Homo sapiens: one gene and its partner. The protein of the gene in region 1 purifies or fractionates together with the protein of each later gene. This does not show direct contact. Each region holds a gene or a part of one and is shown in the gene's direction. Other genes may lie near its edges.

Evidence for each region. Proteins that work in one complex are often made in the same cells at the same time.
Region 2: the proteins of GOLGB1 (region 1) and KSR2 purify together in Homo sapiens (co-immunoprecipitation; one large-scale study listed by IntAct). This does not show direct contact.

What each region holds. Positions count from the first base shown.
Region 1 is NC_000003.12:121,664,998-121,670,489, reverse strand, and holds part of GOLGB1 (golgin subfamily B member 1), read left to right. Parts: intron 1-1,134; coding exon 1,135-1,278; coding exon of another isoform or gene 1,279-1,293; intron 1,294-2,331; coding exon 2,332-2,429; intron 2,430-2,879; coding exon 2,880-3,014; intron 3,015-5,458; coding exon 5,459-5,492. UniProt on the Homo sapiens protein: May participate in forming intercisternal cross-bridges of the Golgi complex.
Region 2 is NC_000012.12:117,453,590-117,459,081, reverse strand, and holds part of KSR2 (kinase suppressor of Ras 2), read left to right. Parts: 3' UTR 1-5,492. UniProt on the Homo sapiens protein: Location-regulated scaffold connecting MEK to RAF. Has very low protein kinase activity and can phosphorylate MAP2K1 at several Ser and Thr residues with very low efficiency (in vitro).

The sequences.
Region 1 (5,492 bases):
AGCTAACAGAGCACTTTTACAAGTATGTATGGATTATCTTGTTCTAATTTTCTATTTGCATCAAATGCCCTTCCTCACAGTTGTCTCTAGAAAACTGTCGTCTCTCCTCTAAAACATTGTTTGTTTCAACTTTTTTTCACAAAAACTTACAAAAAAGAATCATCAAGAAAAAATTGAACATGCAACTGGTATACTGGGTTCCTCTCATATAATGTACATGGTCCTAGAGTAGATAACTTGGAGAGACATCTCCATGGTTATTAATGTACCTGGAGGCTAATCACAGCTAAAACTTAAAACTTGACAGCCTGCAAGTGAGAGAATTATAGTTCCAGAGTACCAAATTCAAATCAATGGGTAGAAGCTACAATAGGTAAATTTTTCATTCAATATAAAAATGAATTTTCAGTTTTTTAAATGGTTTGGGTTGCTTTGTCAGGCAGTGGGCGCCCTGACACTGAACATGTTCAAGGGAAGACTGAACGATGACCTGTTAGTCATGCAGTAGAGGAGAGTCCTGCTTTAAGGGACTGAAATGTTTCTACCTGGGAGAATCTATGCTCTCAACAGTTTCTGACATATACATATACATGTTGGGATTTATTCTGTTTCTCCCTTCTACCACATATTATAATTTTTTATTCTATTCTCTCAGTAACTTATAACTCTTTATGGCATTGAGGAATCTGCCTAGGAATATTATTGCACAGATTTTGGGGTGACAGCTCTCTCCAGCCATATTGAGTTCTGGAGATTATAGTCATTTGTTAGTACCATGAACTTTGACCCTGAGGTACTGCCTTCTCCCTCTTATGTACCCAGAATAGCCTATGTAATTAGATTGCTTATGGACTTCTGCTTCATGGTTTTTCAGTTAATGTACTGGGCACCATTTAAAAAAACAAAACAGAACAAAACAAAAAAACCTTTCTGCTACTCCTCCAGAATTGTTTTCTGTCTTGGTCAAAAAAAAATTATGCTTTTTCCAACTTTGAAGGCACACAAAGTGCTATTGTTGCTGTTGCTGAAACAAAGGTCTTCCATAGGAAAATTAGATCCTGAAAACTCAGAACATTTCACCTCAGCACTGCTTACAGTACTGCAGGATGATGCTTATCCTCGCCTCTGTTTCAGTTCTCTCAGCTACTGGAAGAGAAAAACACCCTTTCCATTCAGCTCTGCGATACCAGTCAGAGTCTTCGTGAGAACCAGCAGCACTATGGTGACCTTTTAAATCACTGTGCAGTCTTGGAGAAGCAGGTTCAAGAGCTGCAGGCGGTGAGTAAAGAGAAGGTGAGAGACTGGGAGAAGTGTGATGAAATTTAGTGCAAGTGGTGAAGCACTACAGAGCAGTATGGAAGAAGTTAATGTAATTAGGGGTCAGGGAAGAAAGTGGGAGAGAAGAAAGAGTTAATTGAGATGGGAATAAGGTCTGAGAAAAATTACAGTGAAGCAATTAGAAGAAAAAAGATCAGTGAGATGGTGGGAGAGAAATCAAAACATGAGTAGGAAACAGTGATGACTGAGACATTTGGTACTCTGAAACAGAGAAAGTGTTGATTTTGCTTTAAGTTATAAGAAAATTGTAGGAAACTTTGGATCTGAGAACAAAACAGGCAGCACTGTTGACAGCCAGGGAGAGGAGTACAGCATTGAAGTTGGAGGAGACTGAGAATTAGTATGGAGACGTATAGGATACGGAGGAGGAAAAGGGGGTTGGGAGGGGCTGGACAAGCAAGGGAAGGATCAAAGTGGCTTCTGGAAAAGCCATAAGCATCCACAGCAGACTTAACTTTTTTTTTTTTTTTTTTTTTTTTGAGACGGAGTCTCGCTCTGTCGCCCAGGCTGGAATGCAGTAGCACGATCTCGGCTCACTGCAACCTCCACCTCCTGGGTTCAAGCAATTCTCTGCCTCAGCCTCCCGAGTTGCTGGGATTACAGGCGCCTGCCACCACACCCGGCTAATTTTTTGTATTTTTAGTGGAGACAGGGTTTCACCATCTTGGCCAGGCTGGTCTTGAACTCCTGATCTTGTGATCCACCCACCTCGGCCTCCCAAAGTGCTGGGATTACAGGCTTGAGCCACGGCGCCCGGCCCAGACTTAACTTTTAAGAGGAGAAATTCAAGAATGAGAATCTGGGAGAAAAATCTAATCAAGACAAGAGTTTTATGTAGGTGAGTAATCTGCTAGAGCAGAAGCTTCTCACTTCTAAATTTGGACTTGAGAATTATAAGCGGGGATAGTCCTCTGTAAACGAGCTCTCATTTTGCTCAAATACACTTTCTTAAGAGCTTTCATCACTGAATTACTAAGCTTATTCTTCTTCCAGGGGCCACTAAATATAGATGTTGCTCCAGGAGCTCCCCAGGAAAAGAATGGAGTTCACAGAAAGAGTGACCCTGAGGAACTAAGGGAACCGCAGCAAAGGTAGGGGAGTGGCTCTCTAAACCCTGGAGCATACACCAGAGTCCAGAAATTGGGCAGTAATCTAGATTTAACTGGAGTCCTTTATATGGATTTAATATGTCTTGTTATCTTATTAGCCTCACAGAAGTGATGTGAGGATCAAATAGTAACAATAATAACTAACATTTGTGTGTGAAAAGTTTGTAAAACAAAAAGAGCAACACCAACACACACACACCACTAACAACTACTCTATGATAGTAAAATGAAAGATAATCAGTTCCTGAAATTTCTTTAGGTATTTTCTGCAGCTTCATTTAATCCCTCTACAGCTTTGCTTTTAAAATATTGTGTTTAGACAAGCTTCTATGGATTTTCTTGCTTTACAACCTTATGAAGACTTTGAATCCCTTGTATTAGCAACTGTTTTCTGCATCTGATGATGCTTTTTGTTTTCCTCTCATCCTAAAGCTTTTCTGAAGCTCAGCAGCAGCTATGCAACACCAGACAGGAAGTGAATGAATTAAGGAAGCTGCTGGAAGAAGAACGAGACCAAAGAGTGGCTGCTGAGAATGCTCTCTCTGTGGCCGAGGAGCAGATCAGACGGTAAAGGCTGAAGGAGATAGCCTCTGTTCCCTTCCGATCCTTTCTGATCAAACTCATGTACATTTCCTGCCAGACTTAGGATTTCTTAAGATCTTTTTCTCATCTTGAGGTAGTTGCTGCAATGAGTTTACCAACATTGTGGTCACCCAAGAGAACACTGTACTTTTGGAGTATAAGAGAGTCAGTGTTTTCTAAAACAGTTGTTCTTAGAGAATAATAATGATATCTACCATTACTGAAAGATATTTTATTTCACCCTAACCATAACTATATGAGGTAGGTGTTGGGTTCTCTAGAGGACCAAATAAGTGACAACCTCATTTTCTACCTGAGATCTGAATCCATGGAAATCTTTTTTAAAAGATTAAAAGATTGAGAGATTAAAAGACTGCTTTATAAATGATGTTAAAAGAATGTAGCTTTTTATTTGTTGGCAAATGCACTTCCTAACCCTGAACTTCCCCTCCCAGTCACAGACAATGTTGGGCCAAGGTAGACCTCCTTCACAGAAAATCCTGCTCTTGCCAAACAAGAGTATTGGAATAACAGAGTGAACTGTGCTTCCTATGAGCAGTTTGCTCCAAGTGTAATTTGGAAGGGCAGAGCTACACATCCCTAGTTCCTTATTCTCATCAAAAGAATCACTATGCATGAGAGGATAGAGAGTTGCTACAAGTATTTTGCTGCTGGAAGTCCCTTTCCACGGAAAATATCGTTAAAAGCAGGCACTTTTATTATATTTTGGGAGAAAGCCACCTATGTATATGATCACTTTCCTCAGAGAATGACATTTCTGATATTAATGCTTTCTTGTAAAGTTTATGTGGCAGAGGTGACAGCCCCATTGAGCAGGTCTTACTTGAGATACCTTTCTTTCCAATCCAACATATTCACAACTTCTTAATTTTCATCACCTATTCAGGCCTTGATATGCAGCTTTGAGGGTGGGCCAGCTTTGCTTAATGCCTTGTGTGGTGTCTTGCCATCTCTGCCGAGCATTTTCAGGCCTGTGCCCTCATGACTGTTTCTCTTCTACTTGCTATTGAATTGTTTAGACCGGTGAAACCTGGCCAATGGGGAGGTTGATCTCCCTCTTGTGTAACTAACCTGTCCCAAACCAACTGAGACTGCATGTGTGGGATGATGACTCTTGAGCCTGTGGGCAAGCCGTATTAATTCAAGCCACAATTCCCTCTTTAGCTCTGATGCAGAATGGAAGTTGGGGTAGCTAATTAAGGGCTGCCTGCCTAGTCCAGGTACTGCCATTGTAATGTTAGAATCTCACATGTACTCTAAAGAGCAGGTGGAACTCAGTGGCCCTCCAGTTTAAAGGCAGCCAGTACCATCTTCCTCATCAATACCTACAGACTTCTCATCCTTCCTCAGCATAGCCTACATTGACAGACTGACCTCCATAGTAACAGACCATGCTGTTCCAGATCAAAGCTGCTTCTGAAAAGCTTATCACATGGAGGAATAGACACAGAAGGTGTATTTTTTAGTCAGCCTGGCTCTCAGGAGGGAAGCAGGAAAGAAGGAGCTAGGCTGTGCATGCTCAGTTCTCTTTCTAGACTCACAAATTGGATTAAGGTGTTTCTTCTCTCCCGGGGAAAAGAATGTGTCCTGCAGAGAGCCCAAGAATATTAAACTAATAGATATCCTTTCAGAAGGAGAAAACACAAAGAGTAGAGGCAAGAGTTTCATCCTCTCTTCCCTATTGAAAAAGTTCATCCCTATAGGCAAATGCTTGATCAAACGTGCTGTGTTACATGCAGCTCCTTTGTTTGTTTGACATAACCATTGAGTGAGTAATGGCAGCTTCTTCATTAAATGGAGAAGTTCCAGTATTAAATAAGCAAATCAGCAAAAACTGAGCCAGAAGGCAGTGGAGACTGCCAATTCAATTTAATTTTTTTTAGTTCAATTTAATTTTTAAAACCCCACAGAAATCTTCTTTGGATGCTTTTGCCTATTAGCCTTTAATAAAAGAAAAAAATGTAATGAGTTTCTCCAAGTCAGGTGTGGTGTGGTGGAAAAAAGAACGTGAGGCTTGAAAGACAAAGTTGGGTATTGAATTCTGGCTCTGCCGCTTACTGGCTGTGCCGCCATGGGCAAGTAATTTAACCTCTGTAAGCCTTAGCACTTTGAAGATAATAAGACCAACCTCAGAACCTGAGGATTAAATGTATGTAAAGCACCCAGCCTAGAGCCTGATACATAGTGAGTAGGCAGTCAATTCCTGATAGTTATTGTCACATTTTGCTGCTGCTGAAGGAAACGTATCTGCTGGTACCCCCCTTGCATGGGTTTGGGTTTATGGGAGCAGCTTTTGCTGCAAGTCTCCTCCTGTGCTGCATTGTGTGGCAGGATGACTGGGAAGACTGGGCCTGATCAGCCTCTCATGCTATGAACCAATGCTATGCCTCTTTTTTTTCTCAACTCAGGTTAGAGCACAGTGAATGGGACTCTTCCCGGACT
Region 2 (5,492 bases), on another chromosome or scaffold:
CTTCTGGGACGGCTTCACCACAAGGCCTGAATGCTATGCCCAGTCTAGTAACAGCTGGGCTGGAAGTCACGGCATATGGGGGCCTTAAGGAATAACAGTGTGCGTGGTGGTGTGCAGGAGAGCTGCAAGGGCTTTTCTTTCTTGAGGAGGTTTGTAAAATTTCTGCTGTTCAGTCTGGGCTTCTGGGAAGTCAGGGGGTGCTGCATATAAAGGGCAGGAAAAGGAGCCTGACTCCAATTGCTCTTTGGTTTCTTCCCTGAATGGAAGGCTCAAAATCAAGTTTCCACCCAGATAAGATCTTGAGGTCCTAGTGGACCACCAGCTCTACTCCTGAGCTCTTGAAATACCTCTAATCACCAGCTCGGTGGCTGAGAGTACCTTCTTGTCCACTGCCTCTTCTTTTCCTTCTCGTCTTCACTTATCCCCCATCCAACTTCTGCCCGATAATATCTCCCCTGTATTGTAAACTGAGGAGAAAGTTGCACAATTGTAGAGATGAAAAATAGCTGCCATGTATTTAGCTTAAATTAGCTCAGAAGAAAGGCTCCCTCCCTCCATTGAGCGGGCAGCACTTGTTTATGCCAACATGCTATTTGCATCGCGCCTTCTTAAATTTGAAAGTCTAATGATTAAAAACAAATCTTAGTTTTTCTTTTCCACCACTTAAAAAAAAAAAACCAGCTTGGCTAGTTCTTCTAGTTTAAAAATACCCTGACCTCCAGCACTACAGTGAGAATTTTGGAAAGGCTGGTACCAGGATATCAGGAGGAAATAAATACAGGCCAACAATAACCAGAGGCCTTTTCTGAGTGGTGGGCGACAGGATGAACAAGGTAGAAGAGAGGTCTTTGTGTCCTCACACAGATGCTGGCATTCTGGGTTTGTCTGGAATTCAGTGAACCTCTGTCCTCTCTGACAGAGATTTCTTCACCAACCATTCATTCAGTGGGTGATTTGTTGAGCATCTACTATGTGTTAGACCCTGGGCATTCAGTGATGAGTGATACAATGTCTCACCTGTTCTGAAGCCTAAAGCCCAATGGGGAAGAGAGACAAGAAGCAAGTCAACCACAAATATATAAATTTGCAACTCATGTAGATCTATGGAAAGAAAACTCACGGGGGACCAGAAACATGGGAGAGGGTATACTGTGGGAGAGCTGCTGACAAAGGTCTTTCTGAGGAGGTGACATTTAAGTCAAGATCTAAAGGAAGAGAAGGATAAAGAGATGTTCATTCTAAGCCAGGGTTTCTCAACCTCAGTACTGTTGAGCTATTTGGGGCCAGATAATTCTTTGAGGTGGCGACTGTCCTGGGCATTGGAGGATGTTAAGCAGCTTCCTCAACTCTCCCCACAAGATACCAGTAGCACCTGGTACTGGTGACATCCAAAAACATCCCCAGACACACCCTGACTTTGCTGTCTGGAATCAATCCTCATAAAGCCCCAAGCCTTGGAGCACAGAGGCTGGAAGCCCATATGGTGGCATGTCAGGCATGGTGTCACCTGAGCTTCTCTGACCCCCACTTCTGATATGGCATCCAGTTTGGAGTCTCTGTTCTCCATGAGCTCCCATAGCTGTCCCATATTCCACAAGGCATTGCTTCTGGGCCACGGTCCTCTAGTTCCAGCATAGCCCTATTTTTGGGTATGTTGGTGGATTTCAAAAGCCTCCAGTTGACATCCAAAGTGTGACATCCAAAACCATCTCCAGACATTGCCAGATGTCCCCTGAGTTGTCTCCAGGCCACGCGACTAGGATTCAAATCCAGCATCCTGCCATCTGCAACCTTCCATGGGAGAAAGGAAATCAGAGGAGAACAGGAAAACACAAGGAGGGGACTCCTTAAGTGAACATTGCAGGGAAATAGGTTTTTAAAGCACTAGTTAGCATCACCAGTGGTTTGAAGGCTGTCTAGGTAAGGAGAATGTGGACTTGCCTTTCACCGTCTGCACGGACAGGGGCTGAAATCTCCAGTCATTCTCTCCATCCTTCCACAGCCCTTCTAAGAAGCAGATCCTCTTGCTGAGCTGAAATCTTGAGACTTGCATCCGGCAATCTTGGTGTTGCTTTCTGAGGCTACTCAGGGAAAGCCCTTCTGTATTCCCCAGGAAGGAAAGTCTCCCAGATAGTGAAGGGCCTTTTCTACCTTCCTTGCAATTCCCAGTTCACTGTGAAGAAGAGAGTCAGGCCGGGTTAGAATGGCTGTCTCTGGTAGCAATGAAGCAACAACATAGACAGTCTGGACAAGATGTGGCAGTTCTGTCCAGTCCCGTGTGACTGATTTGGGCATGGAGACAGGCAGTGGGTGAGGATGGCCTCTGTAGGTCCAGCTGTTTTACCCCTAGAATCAAATCCCTGGAGCTTCCGGCAGTCCCAGGATTGGGAAGGGTAACAGAGAGGACGAGTCGGGCACTGCAAAAGACCAGATCTTGGAAAATTGCTTTGGGAATTGGGACACCTTCCAAGAAGACAGTTGAGTTGGCTGGGGCTCTGCCCTAGATGGGGTCAACCTCTCCCCAACACAGCCCTGCCCAGGTTGGGGCATTGGCAGCTTAAGTGCGTCCTGGACAACAAATGTAATGTATTGGTCCTGTAAGATTCTAGCCATTTTCCTCTGCTTATTTTTCTACATGTGTTACAAGTAATAATGTTTAGATGGGTACATATGAACTTGTGTAAGTTCAAGTAACTGCTATGTAGCTACAGCATGGGCATCAAGGTACTCTAAGGTACTTGCCCTGCCACACCGAGGCCCCCTGCCCCGGCCCCCTTTCCCTCCTAGCCAGCCTTCTAGGGAGCACTGCACACCCTGCCCCTTCAAAGCTATCTGGACAGTCCTGGCTCGACTGGAGCATTAAGGGAGGGGCTGTCCTTGGTCAGGCTTCTGCCCAACTGTGTGATGCATAAATCTTTGCCTGGCTCCTTCTTCCTTCTTTTCGGAAGTCTATCTCCTCCTGAGGGCCTCTGCGGTCCTAACCTATCAAGGAATATCATAGATTGTACTCCCCACCCCATCAAAACACACCCTGACTTTGCGTCTGGAATCAATCCTCATAAAGCCCCAAGGCTTGGAGCACAGAGGCCAGAAGCCCATATGGTGGCATGTCAGGCATGCTGTCACATGAGCTTCTCTGACTCCACTTCCAAGATGGCATCCAATTTGGAGTCTCTGTTCTCCATGAGCTCCCATAGCTGTCCCATATTCCACAAGGCACTGCTTCTGGGCCCCGGTCCTCTAGTTTCCTCATAGCCCTATTTTTGGGTACATTGGTGGATTTCAAATGCCTACAGTTGAGCAGCCGAAGGATTCTAAGAAAATTTTGCTTGTATTTCAAAGGCTCATGTCCCCAGCCCCATTCACTACACCCTCAGCAGAGCCCAGCGTGGAGCAACCTTGTCCCTTCATTCCCCAAATCTTCATTTTATATAGTCATTTAGTAAATATTTGTTAAGTGCCTCCTGTGATTCTGGAAAAAATGGAGAAAAGTGGGTGCTGCCTTCAGGGTACTAGGAGTCCGATGAAGAGAGGGAGGAGTTCCAGTAGGGTCCCGAGGCCCCACAGGAGCTCCCAACCCAGAGAAAGACCCTCCAGGAAGGATTCTCAGAGGAGGAGACTTCTGAACCCTGTCTTGAAATTTGAGTAGAATGGTAGGGAACGGTGTGTCAGACAGAAGGAACAGCCTATGTGTGGACTCAGAGGCAAGATCATGATTTATTGAGGGTAACTGCAAGTGGCTAAAATCCTGCCCCCTGGCACTTGCCTGCCTTTCCCTGCTTTCCCCAAAGCCTGATTTTGGGACCCTGGAGTCTCCATCTCCAAACAGAGGGTGCCCTGGCTCAGATGTGGAGACCTTGACTTCTTTCCCCAGCATGCTCTGGTTCCTACTGTTAGCCTTGGTGTCCTGTGGGGGAAGATGTCTGAGGAGAGTTTTGTGCTTGCTGGAGTCAGACCAGTACTCAGGCCACCTCAGGCCTGCTCTGCATCCCTCTCTGGCTCTACAGACCTCTCTCTCTCTCTCTCTCTCTCTCTCTCTCTCTCTCTGTCTGTCTGTCTCTGTGTCTGTCTCTGTCTCTGCCTGCCTCCACACAGTGAAGGATGTGTCTCTATTTCTTAGTGCCCTGCATTGGGTCCTGAAGTCCATGGGCATCTTGGCTATAGATGGGTTGGCCATGAGCCCTTCTCTCTAATGCATTTTTCATTCCTGTTCCTCTTTTGCTTCACTTTCCCTCTATCGACTCTTGCGACCTGTGTCTCTGATGTCTCTGGGGCCCCCAGTTCTGTCTTGCCATACCAAAAAACCTTCTTCAGCAAAAAACCTCTTTCTGGGACAGTTCATATCACTCTATGAATAGGCCCCTGAAGTGTTGAGGTCAAGGACATGTGTGAACGTGGAAATGTATTTATGGAAAGACCCTACACTGAGGGTCTCTAACTAAACATTTCAGGTATGATGGGCAAAATGCTGGTTTGTTACAGAAATGACTGAAGAAGACCTAGGGGCCATAGTGGGCCACAGGCCAAGCCTGCAATACAGCCTGAAGTGTGGGAAAGAATGTATCAGTCCTGTTGATGGAGTGGTGTGTTTGCTGTCTCTATAAATATGTCAGGGTTTGAAAGACAGAAAACAAAGCATCTTTGCTGACCGCCAGACTCCCAGGGTATATGTGGCTACTGCAAATTAGCGAGGCTTGTTTATCTGCTTCAACTTGACTCAATTTGCATTTCTTGAGCCACTGTCTATTGTGGATAATGATTTCATCAACACTTTCTCAGCATCAGCAGCCCCTCCAGAGTATTCCTTGAATTTTCTTAGCTTTGTGCAACCCACGAGCACTTAATATATCACTAACCCTTGAGTTTATTGGAGGGAGTGAATGAAATAATGAATGTCAATAACGTTACGCAATACCTGGCACACAGTAGGTGCTTCATCAATGTGGCTTTTCTTCTCAATCACCCAAATGAACCTCCCCCAGAATCCCACCTCTAGGGGGACATTCCTGAAAAATAAGGGACTAGAATAGCGAGGTGGTGGGTGTTACCCATTTATTTAGATATTTGTGTCCTGGTGAACATGGGGAGGGATGCCCAAGTGTCATAAGGACACCCCCTCCCCCCGTCTACAAGGCAGAGGTCTCTTAGGATGTGAGAGAGTCTCTGGCAAGACCAGCCCCCACCCCACCAAGGCCCTCATAGAAACAGAACATTCTTCCTCCCTATCCCAAAGCAGAAGTTGACTGGGGCAGATAAGGCAAGTCACATTACATCTGTGCCCTTGACCATACCTGGACCAGGCAGAGAAGATCCCAGACTTAGGTGGTCAACGTTTCCACCCCAAGCCTCTCATTTCTCGCTCTCTTTGAGACTTGATCTTGTACCAGGATCCACTCGACAGACTTAACGCATGATTAATTTGATTGATTACTCTTGAAGTTACTGACCTTAGGAAAATTCCTCAATTGTAAAAAGGCTTTCTCTATATGTAA